3 linked regions of the Homo sapiens genome follow. The protein of the gene in region 1 purifies or fractionates together with the protein of each later gene. This does not show direct contact. Each region holds a gene or a part of one and is shown in the gene's direction. Other genes may lie near its edges. The genes, in order: TIPRL, IGBP1 and ATP6V1A.

Region 1 (7,486 bases):
AGGTAGGTAGGAAAGCAGTGAGTCCTCAGTTCTGGAAACGGTGGCATGGTACTTCTCTATCAAGGCCAGTTCATAGAAAATTATATTATAACATGACTTAGGGTAAGATGCAAATGACTGATTATGTGAATTAGTGGTCTGTTACCCTATCTAGAAGCAGCTGAAATTTTAGATGATAAATTAGTACATTTACTATGGAGAACAGTATGGAGATTCCTTAAAAAACTAAAAATGGGCTGGGTGTGGTAAATCATGTCTGTAACCCCATCACTTTGGGAGGCTGAGGCAGGAGGATCACTGGAGCCCAGGAGTTCGAGACCAGCCTGGGCAACATAGCGAGATCTCATCTCTACAACAAATAATAATAATAATAAAATTAGCTGGGTACAGTGGTGCCTGTAGTCCCAGCTACTAGGGAAGCTGAAGTGGGAGGATTGCGGGAGCCAAGGGAGTCAAGGCTGCAGAGAGCTATGACCATGCCTCTGCACTTCAGCCTGGGCAATAGAGCTAGACCCTGTCTGTTAAAAAAAAAACAAAACAAAACCCAAAAAACCTAAAAATAGAAGTACCCTATGATCCAGCAGTCCTACTGCTAGGAATATACTCAAAAGAAAGGAAATCAGTATATTGAAGAGATACCTGCACTCCCGTGTTTGCTGCAGCACTATTCACAATAGCCAAGATTTGGAAGCAACTGGAGTGTACACTAACAGACGAATGGATAAAGAAAATGTAGTGCAGGCTGGGCGTGGTGGCTCACGCCTGTAATCCCAGTACTTTGGGAGGCCGAGGCAGGTGGATCACGAGGTCAGGAGCTTGAGACCAGCCTGGCCAAGATGGTGAAACCCCGTCTCTACTAAAAATACAAAAATTAGCTGGGCATGGTGGCATGAACCTGTAATCCCAGCTACTCGGGAGGCTGAGGCAGGAGAATCGCTTGAACCCAGGAGGCGGAGGTTGCAGTGAGCTGAGATTGCGCCACTGCACCACTCCAGCCTGGGCGACAGAGCTAGACTCTGTCTCAAAAAAAAAAAAAAAAAAGAAAGAAAATGTGGTACATACATGCAATGAAGGACTATTTGGCCACAAAAAAGAATGAGATCCTGTCATTTGCAACAACATGGATGGAACTGGAGGACACTATGTTAAGTGAAATAAGCCAGGCACAGAAAAACAAACTTTTCATGTTCTCTCTCATTTATGGGAGCTAAAAATTAAAACAATTGAACTCATGGAGATAGAGAGTAAAATGATGGTTACCAGAGGCTAGGAAGGGTAGTGGAGAGGGGCAGAAATGGTTAATGGGTACAAAAATATAGTTAGACAGAATGAATAAAATCTAGTATTTGATAGCACAATAGGGTGACTACAGGCAACAATAACTTATTGTACACATGTAATCCCAGCACTCTGGGAGGCCGAGGCGGGTGGATCACAAGGTCAGGAGTTCGATACCAGCCTGACCAACATGGTGAAACCCTGTCTCTACTAAAAATACAAAAGTTAGCCGGCCATGGTGGTGCGTGCCTGTAATCCCAGCTACTCAGGAGGCTGAGGCAGGAGAATCGCTTGAACCCAGGAGGCAGAGGTTGCAGTGAGCTGAGATCGCACCATTGCACTCCAGCCTGGGTAACAGAGCGAGACTCCATCTCAAAAAAAAAAAATTACTAAAAGATTATAACTGGAATGTTTGCAACACAAAAATATAATAAATGTCTAAGGTGATGGATATCCCATTTGCCCTGATGTGATTGTTACACATTGCATGCCTCTATCAAAATATCTCATATACCCCATAAATATGTCTATTATGTACCATAAAAATTAAAAATAAAAAAATTTTTAAATAAAAAGAAATTTTAGATAGAAAACAAAACCTAATCTTGGCCAAAGGAACCTCAGAAAAACCTTAAAAACTGAATTCCAGGCCAAGATGGGAAGAGAGGTTAGACACACCTCTATACCTTCTCCCTTTTAAAGTTTAGGCACAACTGACCAACATTAAGGTTAAACTAGAGATCATAAGACTGACAAAACACTCTGTGGCAATAAGATACCATATTATAAACAAGACCTAGGCTGGGCGCAGTGGCTCACGCCTGTAATCCCAGCACTTTGGGAGGCTGAGGCAGGCGGATCACGAGGTCAGGAGCTCGAGACCAGCTTGGCCAATATGGTGAAACCCCATCTCTACTAAAAATACAAAAATTAGCTGGCCGAGATGGCGCGTGCCTGTAGTCCCAGCTACTTGGGAGGCTGAGGCAGAAGAATCGCTTGAACTGGGGAGGTGGAGGTTGCAGTGAGCTGAGATCACGTCACTACACTCCAGCCTGGGTGACAGAGCGAGACTCCGTCTCAAAAAAAAAAATAAATACAAATAAACAAGACCTGCGAGCCAGGCGCGGTGGCTCACGCCTGTAATCCCAGCACTTTGGGAGGCCGAGGCAGGTGGATCATGAGGTCAGGAGTTCAAGACCAGCCTGACCAACATGATGAAACCCCGTCTCTACTAAAAATACAAACATTAGCCGGGCATGGTGTTGCATGCCTGAAATCCCAGCTACTTGGGAGGCTGAGGCAGGAGAATCGCTTGAACCTAGGAGGTGGAAGTTGCAGTGAACCGAGATGGGGCCTCTGCACTCCAGCCTGGGCGACAGAGCAAGACTCTGTCTCAAAACAAAACAAAACAAAACAAAACAAAAAAACTATGGCCATGCAAGGCAAGGATTAAGTCATGCCCTACAAACCATAAAATGTCGTTAAATGGTTTTTTATGTGCAATGGTATAATGTGCCTTACTTTCCAACCTGACTGGTGTAGAATCACATGACAGATAGCAGACTCCCTTTTCTTAAGCATTCCTTTCTACTGACTTCAAGTCTTTAGACAAAGCTTAACACTGTTTTTTGTTTGTTTGTTTGTTTGTTTTTGAGACAAGGTCTTACTCTGTCACCCAGGCTGGAGTGCAGTGGCACGATCTCGGCTCACTGCAACCTCTGCCTCTCAGGTTCAAGTGATTCTCCCACCTCAGCCTCCCTAGTAGCTGGGGTTACAGGCATCCACCACCGTGCTTGGCTAAGTTTTGTATTTTTAGTAGACACAGGTTTTCACAATATTGGCCAGGCTGGTCTTGAACTCCCGACCTCAGGTGGTCCACCCACCTTGGCCTCCCAAAGTGCTGGGATTACAGTCTTGAGCCACTGCACCTGGCCTGTGTTTTTATTTGTTTTTGAGACAGGGTCTCGCTCACCCAGGCATGAGTGCTGTGGCATGATCATGGCTCAATGCAGCCTCTGAGGCTCAAGAGATCCTCCCACCACAGCCTCTCAAGTGGCCTGGGACTACAGGCAGATACCATCATACACAGCTAATTAACACGGTTTGTAGAGATGAGGGCTTACTCTGGTGCCCACGCTGGTCTCAAATTCCTGGACTCAAGCAATCCTCTCACCTAGGCCTCCCAAGATGCTGGGATTATAGGCAGGAGCCACCTCGCCTGACTAAAGCTTAAATCTTTCAACAGATTGCCGATCAGAAAATCTTTGAATCCACCTATGATCTGTAAGCCTCTCCTTCAAGACATCCCACTTCCTTAGCCTGAACCAATGTATATCTTCCATATATTGACTTATTTTACCTGCAATTCCCAACTCCCTAAAATGTATAAAACAAAGAGTAATGCCACCGCTTCAGATGCTCTTTGTTAGGACCTCTTGGGACTATTCCCTGGGCCATGGTCACTCATATTGGTTCAGAATAAATCTCTTTAAAACCTTTTACAGAATTTGTTTTTTTTCCATTAACAAAATCATCTCATTTTGAGGCAACTGAAGCCTAAAATCGTTAGAGAAGCGCTTTGCCCAAGGATTCACACAATAGTGTTGCAAATGGAGATTTAGCACTAAGTCAGCTGTGTTGTTTTCACTATACTGGGTGCCTACATAGCAACTAGACCATGGAAAGTCTTCGCATATCTACGAGGATGCAATTTTTGATAGGAGTTGGTCATAGTCAAGAGTGGCTAGATGGCCACTTCTAAATCTTGTTGGTGCTGGATTTCCTAAACTCTGTGGGATTACTTCTTTTTTTGACCTCAAAACAGAAAAATTTCCTCTGTAACACGATTCACTAACACATGAGGTAATCACACTGCTTTGAGGTCTGTAAGGATCAAGTTGGAACCGTCATCCCCTTCCCTGGCAGTCCCTAAAATCCTTCGAGATGACGTCACCCAACGAGTTCAAGAGGGCGGTGCGTTCCTAACCACACCTTCTGCAACCCAAGTGCCGCCCCTCTGACTTTCTCCTTTTTCCTTTTTTCCGGAACGCCGGAACGTAAGACGTGGGTCACGCAACAAGAGCAACTAGTCCCGGAAGCAAAAAGCAAAGAGGCGGAGAAGAAGACGGGAAGCAGAGCCCGCGTCCGGGTCGGCCGGCAGGGGGCGGGGCCGGGCATGGTAACGGCTCGGAAGCCTAGGAGGCTGGGCCGGAGGGAGGCGGAGGAACCGGTGTTCGCCGCCGCCGCTGCTTCAGCTTATTCCTTGTGGCCTCTGCGGGTCCTGCCTCAGCCATGATGATCCACGGCTTCCAGAGCAGCCACCGGGATTTCTGCTTCGGGCCCTGGAAGCTGACGGCGTCCAAGACCCACATCATGAAGTCGGCGGATGTGGAGAAGTGAGGCTTCGGGGCACGGGGTCTGGGCGCTGGCCGGTTGCTGGCCCAGGGCGGGAGGCAGGGCGAACTCTGTGCAGCCCCTCCCCTTTTCCCTGAGGCGGAGGTTCGGTCCCTCCGGACCGGACCTTTGATTGACAACTTCGATAAATAATCCAGTCACACTTCCGGGCCCTTTGGTTGGGGATCGCCAGGCGCTGCTTTCGTCAACTGTCAATCCGCCTGGGTTTGAGTAGAGTGTGACTGTTCTGGTGGACTTTCCCCTCACCAAACGTCTCCTCCTGCCTCAGCCTGCACCACCTTTCTTTCTGGGTGGCTGTTGCCTGTTTTCTTAGGGGTTAATGACGGGGATGATTTATAAGTTTGGTTTCTGTCACGTCAGGTGCTGTGCCCGGCGCTTGAGATAGGAAATGTAAAAGACAACGTGCGCCTCAATTCACAGTCTCGTGAGAGAGACAGACAATTATATTACAGCGTGAATAAATGTAATGAAGATGTATACACGGAGTGATGTGAGGTCTTTTAGGGGCTCGAACCATCTGGGAAATTGGGATGCCTGAACTGAATCTTTATAAAACCGTTGCGGGGGGCGGTGGATAGGTACATGCCATCAGGTCAGGCAGAGTGAGTTGTGATGCGTTTTTGATGCCTGGGCTGAATCTTGACAAAATTTAGGGGAATCAGGGGACGCATGTAAAGCTGGGGGCTCAGGGAGAGTGAAAGCTGTGATGTGTTTAAAGAGCTGTGTCCGTGTGATTGGAGCGTGAGGTACCATAGGGGGTGTTGTGAGAGATGAGAGGTAGGCCCCAGGGGAATCAAGATACTGAGGGAATTTTTATGCCTGGCTAAGGAGTTTTCAATTTTATCTGACAACCACTGGGTGTAATTTTATCCAAAGGAGCTGCATTATCAGATGTACGCTCTGAAAGATTTCTCTGGAGGCCATGTTGAGGCTGGATTGCAGGTCCGCAGGGATGGGAAGGAGACCAGTTAGTAAGAGAAAAGATAGGTTTTAGAAGATTAAGTCCCTGGGATGGCCAGCTGATGGGAGGAGAAATAAAAAAGGAAGAGTCTATGCTGATGACAAGATCTCTGGCTTGGATTTTTGCATGTATCGTATGCCTTTGAACAAGATGAGAAGCACAGGAGGAGGAGAAGCAGATGGGGGCAGGGTGTTGGTTAGAGGATGAGTTTAGTTTATTGAAATGTGAGGTGGGTATAGGTCATAAAGTGAAGATGTGTAGTAGGCATTTAGATATATTTATCTTGGAGCTCAAAAAAGATAACGTCTGTGGGTTTAAGTTTGGGAATTATCTGCTTATATTTGGTACCTGGAGCTTTGGGAATGAATTAAGGTATCTAGAAGTCATCCAGAGGAAAAGGTCATAAAATAGAACCCTAAGTGAGTACTTGCATTTTAAGATTTGAGCAGAGGGAGTGACCAGGGAAGAGAGGAAAGTAATGAAACGATGTTTGCTTCCTAATTCAAGAAAATAAGTGGTAATATTCTAGTAGACTCACTGAAAAAAATTAGGAAAATACAGAAAAGAAAGGAAAAAAATTTCCCTTCATCCCACCAGAAATTGAATTACTTTTTTGAGTTTTTCCTCTCTATATCTTTCTTTTCTTTTTTTTTTATAACTTTTTTTTTTTTTTTGTATTTTTAGTAGAGACGGAGTTTCTGCATTTTGCTCAGGCTGGTCTCGAACTCCTGACCTCAGGTGATCTGTCCGCCTTGGCCCCCCAAAGTGCCGGGATTACAGGCATGAGCCACTGCGCCCAGCCTTGTATAACTTTTATTTATTTTTTATTTTGTTTTTTTGAGACAGAGACTCACTCTGTCGCCCAGGCTGGAGTGCAGTGGCACAGTCTCAGCTCACTGCAGCCTCCGCCTTCCAGGTTCAAGTGATTCTCCTGCCTTAGACTCCCTGGTAGCTGAGACTACAGGCGCGTGCCACCACGCCTGGCTAATTTTTGTATTTTTATTTATTTATTTATTTTTAATTTTCTTTTCTTTTCTTTTTTTCTTATTCTTTCTTTCTATTTTTATTTTGAGATGGAGTTTCACTTGTTGCCCAGGCTGGAGTGCAATGGCGCCATCTCGGCTCACTGTAACCTCCACCTCCTGGGTTCAAGCGATTCTCCTGCCCAGCCTCCCAAGTAGCTGGGATTACAGGCATGCATCACCACGCCCAGCTAATTTTGTATTTTTAGTAGAGATGGGGTTTCACCATGTTGGTCAGGCTGGTCTTGAGCTCCTGACCTCAGATGATCCACCTGCCCTCGGCCTCCCAAAGTGCTGGGATTACAGGCATAAGCCACCGCACCCGGCCTCCTCTCCATATAACTTTCTGTGACAAATTGCCGATTGGTGCAAAAGTAATTGCGGTTTTTAATTGCAAAACCGCAATTACTTTTGCACCAACATAATACAATATATAATTATATTATATATAAAGCAGTCAGCTTCAAACTGGGGCCCCCATGTAATTTACTTACAGATTCTCTAAGCGATGGCTGTATACATGGAGAGTTTTAAGGGAATAAAATTCCATATCTACGATCTCCTTATGTATTATTTTAAAAACAAATTTGCCTGAGGCCGGGTGCGGTGACTCACTCCTGTAATCCCAGCACTTTGGGAGGCTGAGGCAGGCGGATCACCTGAGGTCAGGAGTTCAAGACCTGCCTGGACAACATGGTGTAACCCCGCCTCTACTAGAAATACAAAAAAAATTATCTGGGGGTGGTGGTGCAGGCCTGTAATCCCAGCTACTCTGAAGGCTGAGGCACGAGAATCACTTGAACTTGGGAGG
Region 2 (7,737 bases), on another chromosome or scaffold:
AATCAGAGGAAAGCACGCCAAACAGGAAGAGAGGTTCTCAATCCGGTCTGTGGATTTATTCGAGACTTGTAGCTTGGTTTTCAGACTTTAAACTGTCTTTGGTTTGAAGGTCAGGTTTCACAGGGGACCCGCCCCTGTCTGCCTAGGGATTTGTCTGCCTCCTGCTGCTATCATCAGGCTAATAGTATTGTTCAACTATGGATTCGTTCATAATTTGAGTTTGCAAGGCAAAACAGTATAGATGATGTGAGTCCATGGGCAATTATTAGGACAACTGCACCCATAAAACTTCAGGGTATTTGGATGAGGATGGCTACAGTAAAAAGTGCCATGTGGCTGCTTACAGAAGAATAGGCAATGAGATATAGAACAGTTAAGGGGAACTATAATCTTGTAACAGGGTCTACATGATTTTGAAGCAGTAGGCAGCAAACAACTATGAGGAATCAGGTCAGAGGGCAAGCTGACCTCATGAATTCAGCATGAAGCTGAATTTGCTGCGAGTTTGGTTTATTTTTTTTCTCTCCCTCCCTTCTTCCCTGATTAATTTTATGAAGTTTATAGGGATTGTTTCAATTGAAGCTTACACAGCATCCTGAACTACAGAAAGGAATAGGGGCTTGGGGCTTCCTGGGGGCTGGTGGCAACACAAGAGTTATGGGAGAGCAAGGGAAGGAAATGTGTGGTAACAGAGGTTGTCTTGTTATGCAGATAAAAAGTCTTTCAGGTAATAAAACTTCTCTCAAAGCAGCTCTCAGAAGAATAGGTGATTGTCTGGGTGTGGTGTCAGCCTCCGATCTCCTCTCCTGTGATCCAAGTTAATCTTCCCTGGTTGGTAAGATTCCTAGAGAGGGGATTCATGACAATTACATTCCTTTTGGAGGAGCCAGCTTTAGGCAGATAAGGGGAGCTCAGAGACAGCCTCTGCCTGTATCCACTGTTCCCCAAGTGCCCTTGGTTCAAATAATCAGCATACCAAAGTGGCATATTTTGGGATGGCATCTCCTGAACTCCTTCACATGTAAAGTACTTAGCATAGTCACTTGGCAGGATGTGAGCGCTCAGAGAAGGTTAGGTATTATTATGATACAAAGTTATTCATTTAACATTGAGTCTCTCCTACCTACTGGGTGGCAGGTTCTGTGCTAGAGTGAACAAAGATGAGTAAGACACTCTCCCTGGCCTTAAAGAGCTCTCAGTTTAGTGAGAGACAGGTGTGGATAAAGATAACCACAGTACAGTACTATCACAGGGGGATGAATCAAATGCTATAAGAGCTAAGAAGGAGGTAGCCTCGCCTACAGGGGAAAATCAGGAAGTGCTTCCCAGAGCAAGTGATCTTTGAGCCAAGTTATGAGTAATGAATAGAAATTTGCCAGGCACAGACAAGGAAGATGACATTCCAGGCAGAAGGTACCACCTATGTGAATGCATGAAGGCCTAAGAGAACATGATAGGTTTGGAGAACTAGGAGAGTTTGCTAAAGATTCAGCTTAGGATCCACGAAGGAACAAAATGAAAAGGATGTCAGCAGGCAGATTAGAAAGGATCTTAAAGTCATGTTATTGAGTTTGACCTTTAACAGAATGCCCCTCCGGGCCAAAGTTATTCTCTCCATTCCTCTAACACCTTGAACACACCTTTATCAAAATATTTATCAAATTAACATTTGATTATTTGTTTACCTGTCTCTTCCGTGGAACTATGGACCCCTTAAGAGCTTAAACCTCGGGTAGTGTTCGAATTCTCAATGCCTAGCATTCAGGTAGCACACAGCATGTATGGAAAGAGCAAAGGAAGGAATTTCTCCAAGGTCCCACAGCTATTCAGTAGCAGAGTTGGGCTAAAGGGATCCTCCCACCTCAGCCTCCCAAAGTGTTGGGATTACAGGCGGGAGCCACTGCACCTGGCCAGATTAATGCTTTTTATATTGTGTTACTTAGAGCCCTTGAGTCCCTCACCTGGAGTGCCACTCACTGAGCAGGTTGAGGAAGATGGGCCAGTGGCTGAGTTGGCAGGCTTCTTTGTATCCTCTTCAAATACATCAGTCCTTTTAGAAATTACAGGCTCTCTAAAACTTGTTTTGGAAAAAGAATTATGCTACTACAAAAAGTTTAAGTACCGTTATACTTTCATGATTGTTAAGTGCCCTAAACTAGGATTTTAAAAAGTCTCCCATGCACAACAGGAGTTTAATATGATAAAGTGTTTACACACAAAACACAGCAAACGACTCGTTTTTATTATTCCTTTTTTTCTTTCTTTTTTGTGAGACAGAGTCTCGCTCTGTCGCCCAGGCTGGAGTGCAGTGGTGTGATCTCGGCTCGCTGCAGCCTCTGCCTCCCGGCTCACTGCCTCAGCCTCCGGAGTAGCTGGGGTTACAGGCCCGCGCCACCATGCCCAGCTAATTTTTGTATGTTTAGTAGAGACAGGGTTTCACCATGTTGGCCAGGCTGGTCTTGAACTCCTGACCTCAGGTGAGCTGCCCACCTCGGCCTCCCAAAGTGCTGGGATCACAGGCATGAGCCACCACGCCCGGCCATTATTCCTTTTTTTCTAACCACTTTTTAATCTTGGTATTCTTTCAGAATAAGATGAAATGCAATGCTTAAAATGACAACTCTAATATATAACAGGCACTCTGAAAGTAATTGGCATCTCCCATAAAGACCGTCATTTTGGCTGGGCACACTGAATCACGTCTGTAATCCCAACACTTTGGGACGGTGAAGCGGGTGGATCACTTGACCTCAGGAGTTTGAGATCAGCCTGGGCAACATGGCGAAACCCCGCCTCTACAAAAAAATACAAAAATTAGCCAGGAGTGGTGACTTGCACCTGTAGTCCCAGCTAATTGGGGGGCTTGAGGGTAGAGGATCACTTGAGTCCAGGAGGCGGAGTTTGCAGTGAGCTAAGATCGTGCCAATGCATTCCAGCACTCCAGCCTGGGTGGCAGAGTGAGACCCTGTCTCAAAAAAAAAAAAAAAAAAAGACTAATTTTGAAAGCCATAAAAAATGACTTACAAAGTTTAAGACCAAATTAAGACTGTGCACATTTTTTTCCTCTTAAGTAACAGTAAAGACATGTTTTAATCCAAGCAAATGCAGAGAAGCAAATTATCTTTACTCTCACAATTACTACATTTCTAAGTCTCCTCCACAAGTACTATCTTTTTCTTTATATTCCCTGCCAAGCCTGACCCTGAAAGGTCAGTTTACTAGAGGTGCCAGATAAACCAAATAGGTAATTCGCCAAAGCCTCACTTCCTTCTTAGTTTATAAAGCAGGGGTTGCAAGGGAAGGTTTATTAGAATCACCTGGGAAGCTTTTTCAACCTACATGTGTGCCACAGCCTCCTCTCCCTCTTAGGAAGCACTGTTCTAGTTTGGGGCTTCAATCTGTCCCACATTAAAGGTCTTCATCTTTCTAAATCCTACCCAACTGAAGGTTAATGGAGTAGAAACAATTGAACGCAGAAGTCACTGACTTTGTCACAAACTGGCTGGACAAGTCCCTTAACCTTTCTGGTCTCAAGTTTTTCCTCCGATTTTGGGGGTTCCCTTTAAACTTTGACATTCTTCTATGTGACCGCATGTCATGTCTAAGAAGCCTTCTGAACTACTCCTAGCATGGGATGACTTGCCCTTTCTTGCTTTTCCAACAGCCTGTGCAATACAACATATCACCTATTTTATACTGTCCTATATTGCCCTCTAGTTGTTTTTTAATGAAGCTTTTTTTCTTCTCAACGATATGTAGTTTAAAATACTAGTTTAAAAGTTTATTTTCAGGGGTAGACAGTGTGCCTGCTACTTAAATCTCCTAGGACAATTCAGGCTGCGTCCTAAGGTAATCAGTATGTATTTATATTGCTTTGTTCAAAACAATGACGTCCCTTCTTTGAAGTCCTGAAATTATGTTTTCCATCAGTTCTGTCCAGTAGAAATATAATGGGAGCTACAAATATAGTTTTAAATTATCTGGCAGGCACATTTACAAAGTGAAAAGAAAGAAGTACAATTAATTCTAATAATATATTTAATCCAACATATCCAAAAGACTATCATTTCAACATGTAGTCCATGTAAAAAGTATTTACATTTTTCATTCTTTTTTTTTTAAATGTCTTTGAAATCTGGGGTGTTTTTTACACTTGCAGCACATCTCGATTCAAAATAGCCACTTTCAAGTGCTTAGTAACCACATGTAGCTAGTAACTACCTACTGAACAATGCTGTTCTGCATAAGTTGGCTGCTTTCCAAACTGATCACTTTTTTTTTTTATTCAGATAATGACTGATACTGAGTACTCAGGCTAGCCAGAGTGGTGCAAAGATGAGTCAAATTCATTCTGATAAGAGAGATTTGTAAGTCACTAGCAATTATACAGCGTGGTAGGTGCCATGATAGAGATGCATAGGAGAAACCCAGACTTGGCGGCTGAAGGGCACAGGGTGGAAGGCGGTAGAGAGACAAGGAAGGTTGCACAGAAATAACATTTGATGTAGGAACTAAGTGCACGAAGGGAAGCCGGCTGTGCGGTGACCGGAGTTGCAGGTTGCCAATCTTGCTGAGGGGGGCTCCACCGGACGCCGGCCTACGGGTCGTAGGCGTGTGTGGGGTGAAGGGGGAAGAGGACGGGAGAGGATTGGCTGGGAGGAACCCGGAGCTCCATCTGGTGGGTGGACGGAAACCGCAGGGGGGCGCTACTTGCACTTCGCGCTCAAGCGACCGGATCTTCAAACCGTGGGAGTGGTGCGGCGGCTAGAGTCCCTGGACTCCTCAACCTAGGGAGCTACTCGCGAGGTAAGGGGCGCGCCAGACTGGCTCCTAAAACGCACTCGCTCGTCCGCACTCCTCGCGCTCCGAATTCAGCCTCGCCTCACCCGGGCTTCAGAGCCCACAGAACTTCTCAGCCCCGTGTCGGCGACGAGGAGCTCATGGTAAAACAGCGCCTAGGGTTTTGCTTGTTTGTTTGCTTTTAACAGATGCCTACGACTTGTAACGGGCTGCCTGGTAAAATGAGTCTATGGAAACGGTTGCCAGGGCCGGCTAACAGCGGCTCCCGGAAGTCCTTTGATGCTTTGTTAACAGTGAAGCTACTGGACCAATGAGGTGCTTCTTCCGGTTTTGTCCGCGCTCGCCTAATTCTTCTTTATCAAGGTTGCCTTTGACCCCGGAAAAGAGATCTTCCGGGTTCCTCTCTCCCCAAGATGGCTGCTGAGGACGAGTTACAGCTGCCGCGGCTCCCCGAGCTGTTCGAAACTGGTAGACAGTTACTGGACGAAGTAGAAGTGGCGACTGAACCCGCCGGTTCCCGGATAGTCCAGGAGAAGGTGTTCAAGGGCTTGGACCTCCTTGAGAAGGCTGCCGAAATGTTATCGCAGCTCGACTTGTTCAGGTATGGGGGAAGATAGTAATAATGGCTGAGAACGAAGGTAATAATGGTTACCAAGGGTGGAGCCATTGCGCCTGAGTGGAGGGGACCTTTAGTGGTGAGAACGTTTCGTTCCTACTTACCACTGCGATCTTGTGTACATTGTTTACATTCCCCACCTCTCTTCCCAGATGGTTGATATCTTACGACTCTGCTTCCTAGCGTCTGCTGATTGCATAGGCATTGGGTGTGAGCCCTCAGCCACTTTCATTGAGTGAAACTGGCCGCTGTTCCCCGTGCCTCCTCCCTCTGGTCCACTCCCAGCCCAGCCTCCCACTCCGTCCCCCAGAAAGCAAGGGCCACAATTTGAATGCCTAGTCAGGCTTCACTGCCTCCTTTTTGCTCTTCCAGCCGAAATGAAGATTTGGAAGAGATTGCTTCCACCGACCTGAAGTACCTTTTGGTGCCAGCGTTTCAAGGAGCCCTCACCATGAAACAAGTCAACCCCAGCAAGCGTCTAGATCATTTGCAGCGGGCTCGAGAACACTTTATAAACTACTTAACTCAGTGCCATTGCTATCATGTGGCAGAGTTTGAGCTGCCCAAAACCATGAACAACTCTGCTGAAAATCACACTGCCAATTCCTCCATGGCTTATCCTAGTCTCGTTGCTATGGCATCTCAAAGACAGGCTAAAATACAGAGGTGGGTCAATAGCTATAATATGAGGCCTGCCCAATGGCGGTGCTTTTCAGGGGCATGCTTTCTTGGCGGGTGGTGGGGGGCCAGAATGGTATGTGTCACTTTCTTGGTTCTTATTGAGCATAGGCCCTAGGGAGAGCAAACTTTCCTGAGTTTTTCCAAGAAGCCTCTGCTTTTGTTGAGATGATTATACCTACTTATCAGACCCTTACTACCTTATGGTTGGCAACAGCAGCAATGTAGTTTAGCAGAGTGTCTCCCAACCTTTTCCACATCACATCATAGCAATGTTCATATGGTACAGTGGGGTAGATGTCTCTGAAAGGCAAAGCTAGGCCATTTTATGGTCCACTGATTGAGGAGCTCTGTTCAGACTACTGGAGTAGATGTGTAACATCCTGAACTGATCTTAGTCCTGGCACAGCTTCATTGTGTGACCTTGGAAAAGTTGCTTACTTTCTTAGGTTTTTTTTGTTGTTGTTGTTTGTTTTTTAAACAACATTTAATGGGTGGTCATGATGTCTAGGAACTATGCTAGGCACTGGGGATACAAACTGTATAGGTATTTGTGTGAGTATGAGTGGTCCCTGCCTTGGAGGAGCATACAATCTGGTGAGGAAAACGGGCATAGAAACAGAATATCAATATAAACTGATGTTGTGGAGGGATGCACAAGGTACTATGAGAGCAGACAGGAAGGGCACCTAACCAAAGGGAGCAGGAGAGAGGAGAAAGCTCCCTGGAAGAGGTGACTCCTGTGCTGAGTTCTTTAAGGGTAAATAGGAATATCCAGGGGAAGAGGAGAGGAGGGCATTAGCCGGCAGAGTATGTAAAGCCTTAGTAAAGCCACAGAGGCATTAAAGAAACAGTGGTGGGTGGAGATGTGTAGACCAAAAACAGCAGCTATGAGCAATTAGGTGATGGTAGAACACAAAGAGGGTGGTGGTAAGGGGGAAGGAATGATACTGAAGAATGTTGTAGGGTCCACATCAAGGAGAGCCTGGGATGTGAGGAACGTGAAGAGAAACTTGTTGCTGAGAACTTGGTAAGGTGTTTGAATCCCAGCTCGACGACTGTGATTAATCACTGTGATTTGTGGTAAGTTATTTAATCTTTCAGTACCTTAATTTCCCCAGCTGCAAAATTCAGATAATAATAGGTTCTTCCTCATAAAGTAGTTTATGAGGATTAAAAGAGAAATATATATAAAGCAGTTAGCCCAATGTTTGACACAGTAAACACTCAAAGTCAACTATTATTATTTGTGGCTAAGAGTATGGGTCATAGAGTCAGAGACCTGGGTTTGAGATCCAGCTTTACTTATAATCTGTTGGACTTTGGGGAAGTTATTTAACCTAACTGAGCCTCAGCTTTCCTCATATGTGAAATCTAAGTAATAATGGTACAGATGGTCCCCGATTTGCGATGGCTTGTCTTAGAATTTTTTAACTTTATATTGGTGCAGAAGCAATACACAGTCAGGGGAACATCAATAAATTACATGAGTTATTCAACACTTTATTATAAAATAGGCCTTGTGTTAGATGATTTTGCCCAACTGTAGGCTAATATAAGTGTTCTGAGCATGTTGAAGGTAAACTAGGCTAAGCTATGATGTTCAATAAGGTGTATTAAATGCGTTTTCAACTTACCATATT
Region 3 (6,910 bases), on another chromosome or scaffold:
TAAAAATATGAAGAAAAACCAGCTAAGTTTTAAGTTTCAATATGATAGGCAACATAGGCAACAGTGTACAATTTTAAATATTTGACTGGCTTCGTGTTGGGACTTCCGCAGTTTCCAATTTTAGATATTTCAATTTACTGTTTACTTACCTCAATATACAATAGAATACTTAGCAAATAAAATTTCATACAAAAGCCACATAACCAGGACCACTGTTTCGTTTTTACAGGCCATTCCAAATTAAGAGTCAGGACTTTAAAATCGACCACACTGTGCACTGTGGTACAAGTTTTGGAACTCAAGGCGCTTAACTTATTTTAAACCTATACTGTTGTAGGTTCAGTATCCGAACAAGCACAAGTAAGATTCACACAACTCATTTGTTGAGTGTCTTAAATACAGACTTAGAAGCAAAAAAAATTAAAAAGTTTCATCTCATCTGGGAGTTAGTTCATTTGTTAAGTTAAAGGGATTATTCCTGTGAAATCATCTTAAAGGTTTACAGTAAAGAACACAATTCTAAGCTCCCAATCATAAGAAGTAATAGGAACTTCACTGGCATAGTTACTGGCATAAAGGTACAGATTCAATAGTTGTAAGTTTCCTCTAAATTCGGCCAGTTATTTCTAGGGATCTGCCTTCATCAGGTTACATGTAAATACCCATTTTAAACAGAGATAATTGCTCCATGAATATATTAATTCAAGGTAGATTGTGAATAATATGACTGTTCAGCTTCATTTCTATCGCCAAGTTATGTATCAGAAAGAACATCACAGCCTATGGAGACTGAACTAGATTGAAGATTTTGGATCTAAACATACAGAATAATTTCCTGGCAACCCCTTCGTAAATCCATGGCAATTTCAACACTGGGAACTCTTCAGCCTCATTTTTCTTACTTAACAGAACATGACAAACAAGTACTGAGTGCCTGACAATGAGTACAAAAATGAGTAAGAGTCAGCAACCATGTTCAAGAAGTGCAGTATATGCCGCGTTCAGTGGCTCACACCTGTAATCCCAGCACTTTGGGAGGCAGAGGTGGGTGGATCGCTTGAGCTCAGGAGTTTGAGACCAGCCTGGCCAACATAGTCAGACCCCCGTCTCTACAAAATATACAAAAAATTAGCAAGGCGTGGTGGTGCGCGCCTGAGGTCCCACCGACTCGGAAGGCTGAGGCGGGAGGATTGCTTGAGCTGGGGAGGCAAAGGTTGCAGTGGGCCGAGATAGCGCCACTGCACTCCAGCCTGGGCAACAGAGCCAGACCCTGCCTCATTAAAAAAAAAAAAATGAAAAGAACAAAACAAAAGGAGTGCAGTATAGCAGAAAAACAACATTCTCCAAATATGTTGGATTGTATCTGAAATAGCCAAACTTCCAAGATCATGATTCAAGTGGAGCAAATACTTCCTATACCCGTCAATTATATTTCCCTAACTGGAACTCTTTACAACTTGATGTGAAACAATGCAGGTACTGTGAATAGTTCATGGTTCTTAAACTTTAAAGATTATTAGTACAAAACATACAATTCAACATTAGAATAAATATCCAGTATTTAAAGGAAAATTAAAGTAAGGAAACATGTTACAGACCTAAGACCAAATTAAACTTTCTTGGAATCTCTTCAGGAACCTCAAATACCGATACACAGAGGTAATATTTAGGTCCTTGTTTGGGGCAGTATGAGATTACGTTGAAAGTGACTTTTATTTCATCCTCAAAAGTGCTATTGAATAGTTGGAATGACTTCGTTAACTTAAAACATAGTTACGACTTCTTAATCGACTTACAACAACAAACTATGGCATCGCAGAGAGCTTTTTAACGTTTATGAGCTTCATCTCTTTGAGGGTAAAGACAAGCTCCAAAACGGCTTGAGACAATGCTTCGGAAAAATGTTACGTAATTAATACATTAAAACTATACAACTTAATGGTAAGGAGACATTTCATAAAAACTTAACCAGTCGATCCAAAATAATTCCTAATTTTACGTAAGAGGCAAACGGTGAAAGACCGAACATTAACTTTGCCAATCACCTGAAAGGAGCAGCGTGGTAGAACTACCCAGGACCGCCTCAGCACTCAGGGGCAATAGTGAACTACTGAAGCAACAGCTCCACCTACTGATCCACCCTATACTTCCTTAAATATGTTGGCACCCCAAGTCTACAGTGATCGCGCTCTCTCCCCCTCCTCCACTCGCTGTGACCCAACCCAAATCTAGTTGAGTCACTAGCTCTTAATACTCATCCCCGTGCTCTTTATTCCAATTTCTTCTTCCTCCAGAAGGTTCTGCACAGCTCCCAAGCGTGAATTAAACTGAAAGGTGTCAAACACCGCAGTTCCAGAGTTGAGTCTGGAGGTGGAAGACAACCAAACCACTCCACCTGGAGCTGCGGGCCGGCGTGGCTCAGCGGTCCGCTCCCGGGAAGGAGGCCCCGGGCGCTTCACAATAGCCTTTCCATGTTGCCCCACTCGGTCGCTTCTCCCCACTCAACAACCCACACTCGTCTCCGAACCGAAACCCTGAAGCCCCCCGGGTCTTGCCTCCGCTGGCCCTTCAGCCCGCCAACAGCCCGAGCCTCGCCTCCGCCCCCTCCGGGAGCCGAGGGAACTGAGAAGCAGAGAAATCTCCCTCCGCCCGTCTTCGCCCTGAATCTCTCCTCGCCTTTGCGGCTCTCCCCCTCTACATGGGCCCGGACCCTTCTACCCCACCGGCCGGGCCCTGCCCGGCTGCCCTTCCTCACCCTTTCATCTTCCCCGCCTGCTGAGGCCGTCGTTACCACCGATATCAACGCCGTCGTAGTCGCCGCCCTTAGGTCTCCGCACCCTTAGCTCGGGCCACTCAACCCCGCAAGCCGGCCTCCTAGCCTGGGCAGGGAGCTGTGCGAGCAACGAAGGCCGCGAGAGTCGAGTGAGGGCTTGAGTCTGGTGGGGGCGGGAGTGTCTCCCGCCGCCGCGCTTGTGCCGCCGCTTCTCCACACGTGCACTCGGGTCTCTCGGCTCCCTCCCGCCGCTGCCGCCAGCCAGACCCGCTGCCGCGCTGTGACCTTTCACCCCGCCCCTCGCGCGCCGGCGCGCCGCCGCCTCACGCGCAGCCGCACTGCTCGCCTCCGCGCACCCTGCCCCCTCCACTCCGGAACCTCCATCTTTCTCCTGGACTGGGCCTTCTGGGGTCATGCTCCTCCCTCCCACCCGCTTACGACACTGCTTGTGGGGCTGGCTCGGTAGGCCCTGGCGGTAAAATCCAGATTTTTCCACCCCTCCCTCTCTTGTCCCATATCCGCAAGATAGTTTTTCTCAGCCCCGTTCTTCCCAGTTTGTGGTCTCCAGAGTGACCTTCAAACGCTGTTGCCTCCTAGTAGGGTTTTATAAAGTTAGTTCTTCTAAATGTAAAGAAATCTGTGGAAAGCTCAAGTTTAAGTTAGGTGTTTTAAAACAAACGTAGTTAACAATCGGCCAGATAGATTGGCTACCCTCCAGCACGCCTCAAGTTTTAAGATCACGTGATTGGCCCAAACCTCAGAGCCTGGAATTTTACCGGCGGACTCCAGAGGGACGGAACGCCACCGCCATTTCCTGTCCCTCGATTGTGGCGTGAACGTCACTTCCTTAGCAATGCGCTTTAACTCTTGCTGTCCACATTTTCCACATTGTACTTTATAACATACTCTTTGTGAAAATTTATCTTTTATTTCTTTAATCCAAGAAAATTAATATTCAAGGGATCCGTAAAAATTCAGGCCCCCCGAGATGTAGAGCGCTGGGATGGAGGAGGCAGGGCGGAGCTCGACGTCATGTGACTGGTTGGGCCCGCCCCCCCCCCCCCCCCCAACCTGTGCAGCTGAGGACTTCCCCTCCGTGGTGACAGCCTCTGGGTCCTCGGTCGGTACAGTCTCTGCACCTCGCGCCCCAGCAGGTGAGCGGCGACCGGTAACTGGCGAGTGGTGGGGATAGAGGGGGTGGAAGGAGGCAGAGGAAGGAGAGAAGGGAGAGTGTGAACGGCGACTTTTCTGCCTGAGGCTTCCTCCCCGCTGTCACCCTGCACCGGCAAGGAGCTCATTTCTCCTTAACCCCCGCTCCCCCAAGTGTGGTCGTTCCCGCTACTTGGGGATTCAGATGTCCACCTTTCCCAGGGTTGGAAGTGAGTGCGGCCATTATGGTTCCCTACTCAGAGCCTTTGGGGCTTCGGGTAGCAGATTGTTTCAGCCATTTCACAGGGTCTGCAGTAGACATTAGGTCCCATTCCTTAAAGCCCATTCTTTGGCAAAGGTCCTCACTGTCCTTACCCTCAGCTCAGGGCTGAGGAGCGGGGAGGTAGCAAAAACCCTGGAGGCAGAGGCGTCTCCGGTGAGACAGGCTTGGGAGGGACTGTCACTGATACGGCCCTCACTGCAGAGTCACTGTGAAGCTTCCCTCCGAATGTGCTTTCTCAGTGATTCTAAGGATTTTATCTGACATACCTGCAGGGAAGGTTCCGTAGATGTTCACGTGCTTCGGATGGGACTAGAAAAGTAAAAGAAGGGCTTTTACTTTTTCTTCTCTGCAGAGAGGACAGTTGAAGGAATACTGTCTTCAAAACAGGAGGTGTTAGTAATGCGACAGTCTCGATTGAATGAGGAGGCGTTGAAAGATGGTATTGTGGTGTTGTGGTGTGCAGGAGGCCCAGGCTGGTTTAGGGAAGAGTGAGTAGGGTTCCCTGAAACCGAAATAAGAAACTGATTGGGTTGGAAATAGTTAAACCAAATTGATTTGGCCATATGCTTAAAGGTAGAATCAAGTCGAGATGTTGCTGTCTGCACATGTTTTCTGCCGTCAATCCTTCCCTTTTTGTCATTTTCCCCTAAAATACTACTGAATTGGCACTCCCAATCTATTCCTTGATCGGCTTTGTGGTAAATTTAGGTTAAGTAGCATTTGTATCCCTCTTTAGCTTTCCCCATTTGTAAAACTCCCGGTGCCCTCTTCAGATTTTGATGAATAGTATTTTGTGAAAATACAGAAATTGTTGTCCAATTGAAAATACAGGTGTTGTCCAACCCAAGTACTCCCATTCCGTCCATAATGTATTATTACCAATGTTTTGATCCCAAACAATGTGCTTTAGGGAAGAATGTTTTTCAGTTTGTGGTTAAACTCTTTTATTTATACTGCAAACTCAGAAAATTCCATGCTGCTTTTCAATTGAAGGTCTTACGAATATTACAAATTTGATTTTTAAAATTTAAATTACACCTTTCTTAATATGAAAAATTATATGCTCAGTTAAATCTTGTAGTTTTCTAACTAAGGTAATTAAAGAAGACTGCTGGAAAATGAGGAAGATGGAATCATCTTTGGTGGATGTGACTGATTTATTTTTGTTTTTCTGTGTCTTCCAAATTCTATACAATAAACGGTCTTATTTTGTTAAGGAGAATAAAAAGTTAAAATTCTACAATAGCAGCAGTTTAACAAAGTATTTTTATAGTAAGTGCAAAATACATAACCTAGCTTATTGATGCTCCTTAGTAGAAAACATAACCTCGGAGATGTTGCTTTCCCCAAGTAATGAAGATTACTACTATCTCTTGTGGATTTACCATTTTAGCATTTCGTACTTACGACCCATACTGGACAATAGACTAATGTATTGATATATTTATGTCATCATGCCTGCTGTAGATATATATATGTAGTTTTATCCATTAATTTTCTCCATAATAAGGTTCCTTGATCTCTAGAGGAGAGGGGAAGAAAAAAAGGAAGTGTTACTTCAGTGACCAGGTGACATTGCACCACGTAAGGAGAATTCCTTATGTGGTCTGGAAGTCCTAACTAGTCCTGTCTGGCTGAGACCAAAATGTGAAAGAGAAAACCAGCTAGAAGCATTGACTACTAGAGGGGAAAATGTCAGTATGAAAGTGGTTGGATGAGTCTGCAGTTTTACTTCACAATTCCCCCAGTTTTAGGGAACTCGTGAAAGCAATAACTTAGACCACTGATGAAATGTAGATTAGTAGTGGGAATTGGTGATTACATTGCTAGTAAGGTTAAATGTGAAAAAAAGCTTTGACATTATACACAGATCACACACACACACACACACACACACACACACACACACACACACGATTGGAAGCCTGGAAAACATTTCTGAGACTAGCCTTATCAGTTTATGAGTGTTACATGTAGAAATCTTAACATTTATTAGGGAATTGTGCTATAGTCCACTATTAAATAAAGCATAAGGGTTTGGTTTTATTTTAGGGCCCTTGGCACTTCTGGTTTTCTTTTCCTGAGTTCTTGTTTTCAGTGCCTTTATAGATTTTTGCCACCACTAAGAATGCTTTCTTCCCCATGGGCAGAGGTAGCCACTCAGTCCTATAGACTACTACTAATCATCATCATCATCTTTTCTATTCTTCTACTTGCACTTCTAGCATTGTATTTAATTCCTGTTCCCTGGGCTCTTCCTCAGCAAATCATAAAGCTCTCAGGACTGTGAACTATAATACTATTGTGTCTTCAGCACCAGAATACTGAAGTACCTGATAGGTACTCAATAAATTATTTATTGAATGAATGTTGGGCAATTAGACAAAGAAATTAAACCACTTTAATTTTTGCAGATCATAGCTCTTCCTAAAGTTGTGCACTAAATGTTAGCTTTTAAATATAAACTGGTAATAACCTTCCAAATTCATGGTCAATACAATAGATAAAAACCTCAGATGGACTTTATTAATGCTGAGACCAACTTATTTTCACAGCATGTTTGTTTACTAATAAGTATGGTTATCATCAAAATATGGGAGAGAAGGGAAGAGGAATGAATCGTACTAAATGAAAAAGTGGCTCTGCGTGATCTATAAGTGGACTAGCACTAGACTAAAAGTCAGAGGATCTTCATTCAGCTCTGC

What was found.
Region 2: the proteins of TIPRL (region 1) and IGBP1 purify together in Homo sapiens (affinity purification with western blotting; 2 studies listed by BioGRID and IntAct, with this or other methods). This does not show direct contact.
Region 3: the proteins of TIPRL (region 1) and ATP6V1A fractionate together in Homo sapiens (co-fractionation; 2 studies listed by BioGRID). This does not show direct contact.

Annotation. Positions count from the first base shown.
Region 1 is NC_000001.11:168,174,509-168,181,994, forward strand, and holds the start of TIPRL (TIP41-like protein), read left to right. Parts: upstream 1-4,453; 5' UTR 4,454-4,569; coding exon 4,570-4,673; intron 4,674-7,486. UniProt on the Homo sapiens protein: May be a allosteric regulator of serine/threonine-protein phosphatase 2A (PP2A). Isoform 1 inhibits catalytic activity of the PP2A(D) core complex in vitro. The PP2A(C):TIPRL complex does not show phosphatase activity.
Region 2 is NC_000023.11:70,128,735-70,136,471, forward strand, and holds the start of IGBP1 (immunoglobulin-binding protein 1), read left to right. Parts: upstream 1-4,712; 5' UTR 4,713-4,806; intron 4,807-4,988; 5' UTR 4,989-5,213; coding exon 5,214-5,401; intron 5,402-5,788; coding exon 5,789-6,082; intron 6,083-7,737. UniProt on the Homo sapiens protein: Associated to surface IgM-receptor; may be involved in signal transduction.
Region 3 is NC_000003.12:113,743,187-113,750,096, forward strand, and holds the start of ATP6V1A (V-type proton ATPase catalytic subunit A), read left to right. Parts: upstream 1-3,848; 5' UTR 3,849-3,927; intron 3,928-6,910. Other genes in the region: NAA50 (N-alpha-acetyltransferase 50), read right to left, coding at 2,756-2,763. UniProt on the Homo sapiens protein: Catalytic subunit of the V1 complex of vacuolar(H+)-ATPase (V-ATPase), a multisubunit enzyme composed of a peripheral complex (V1) that hydrolyzes ATP and a membrane integral complex (V0) that translocates protons.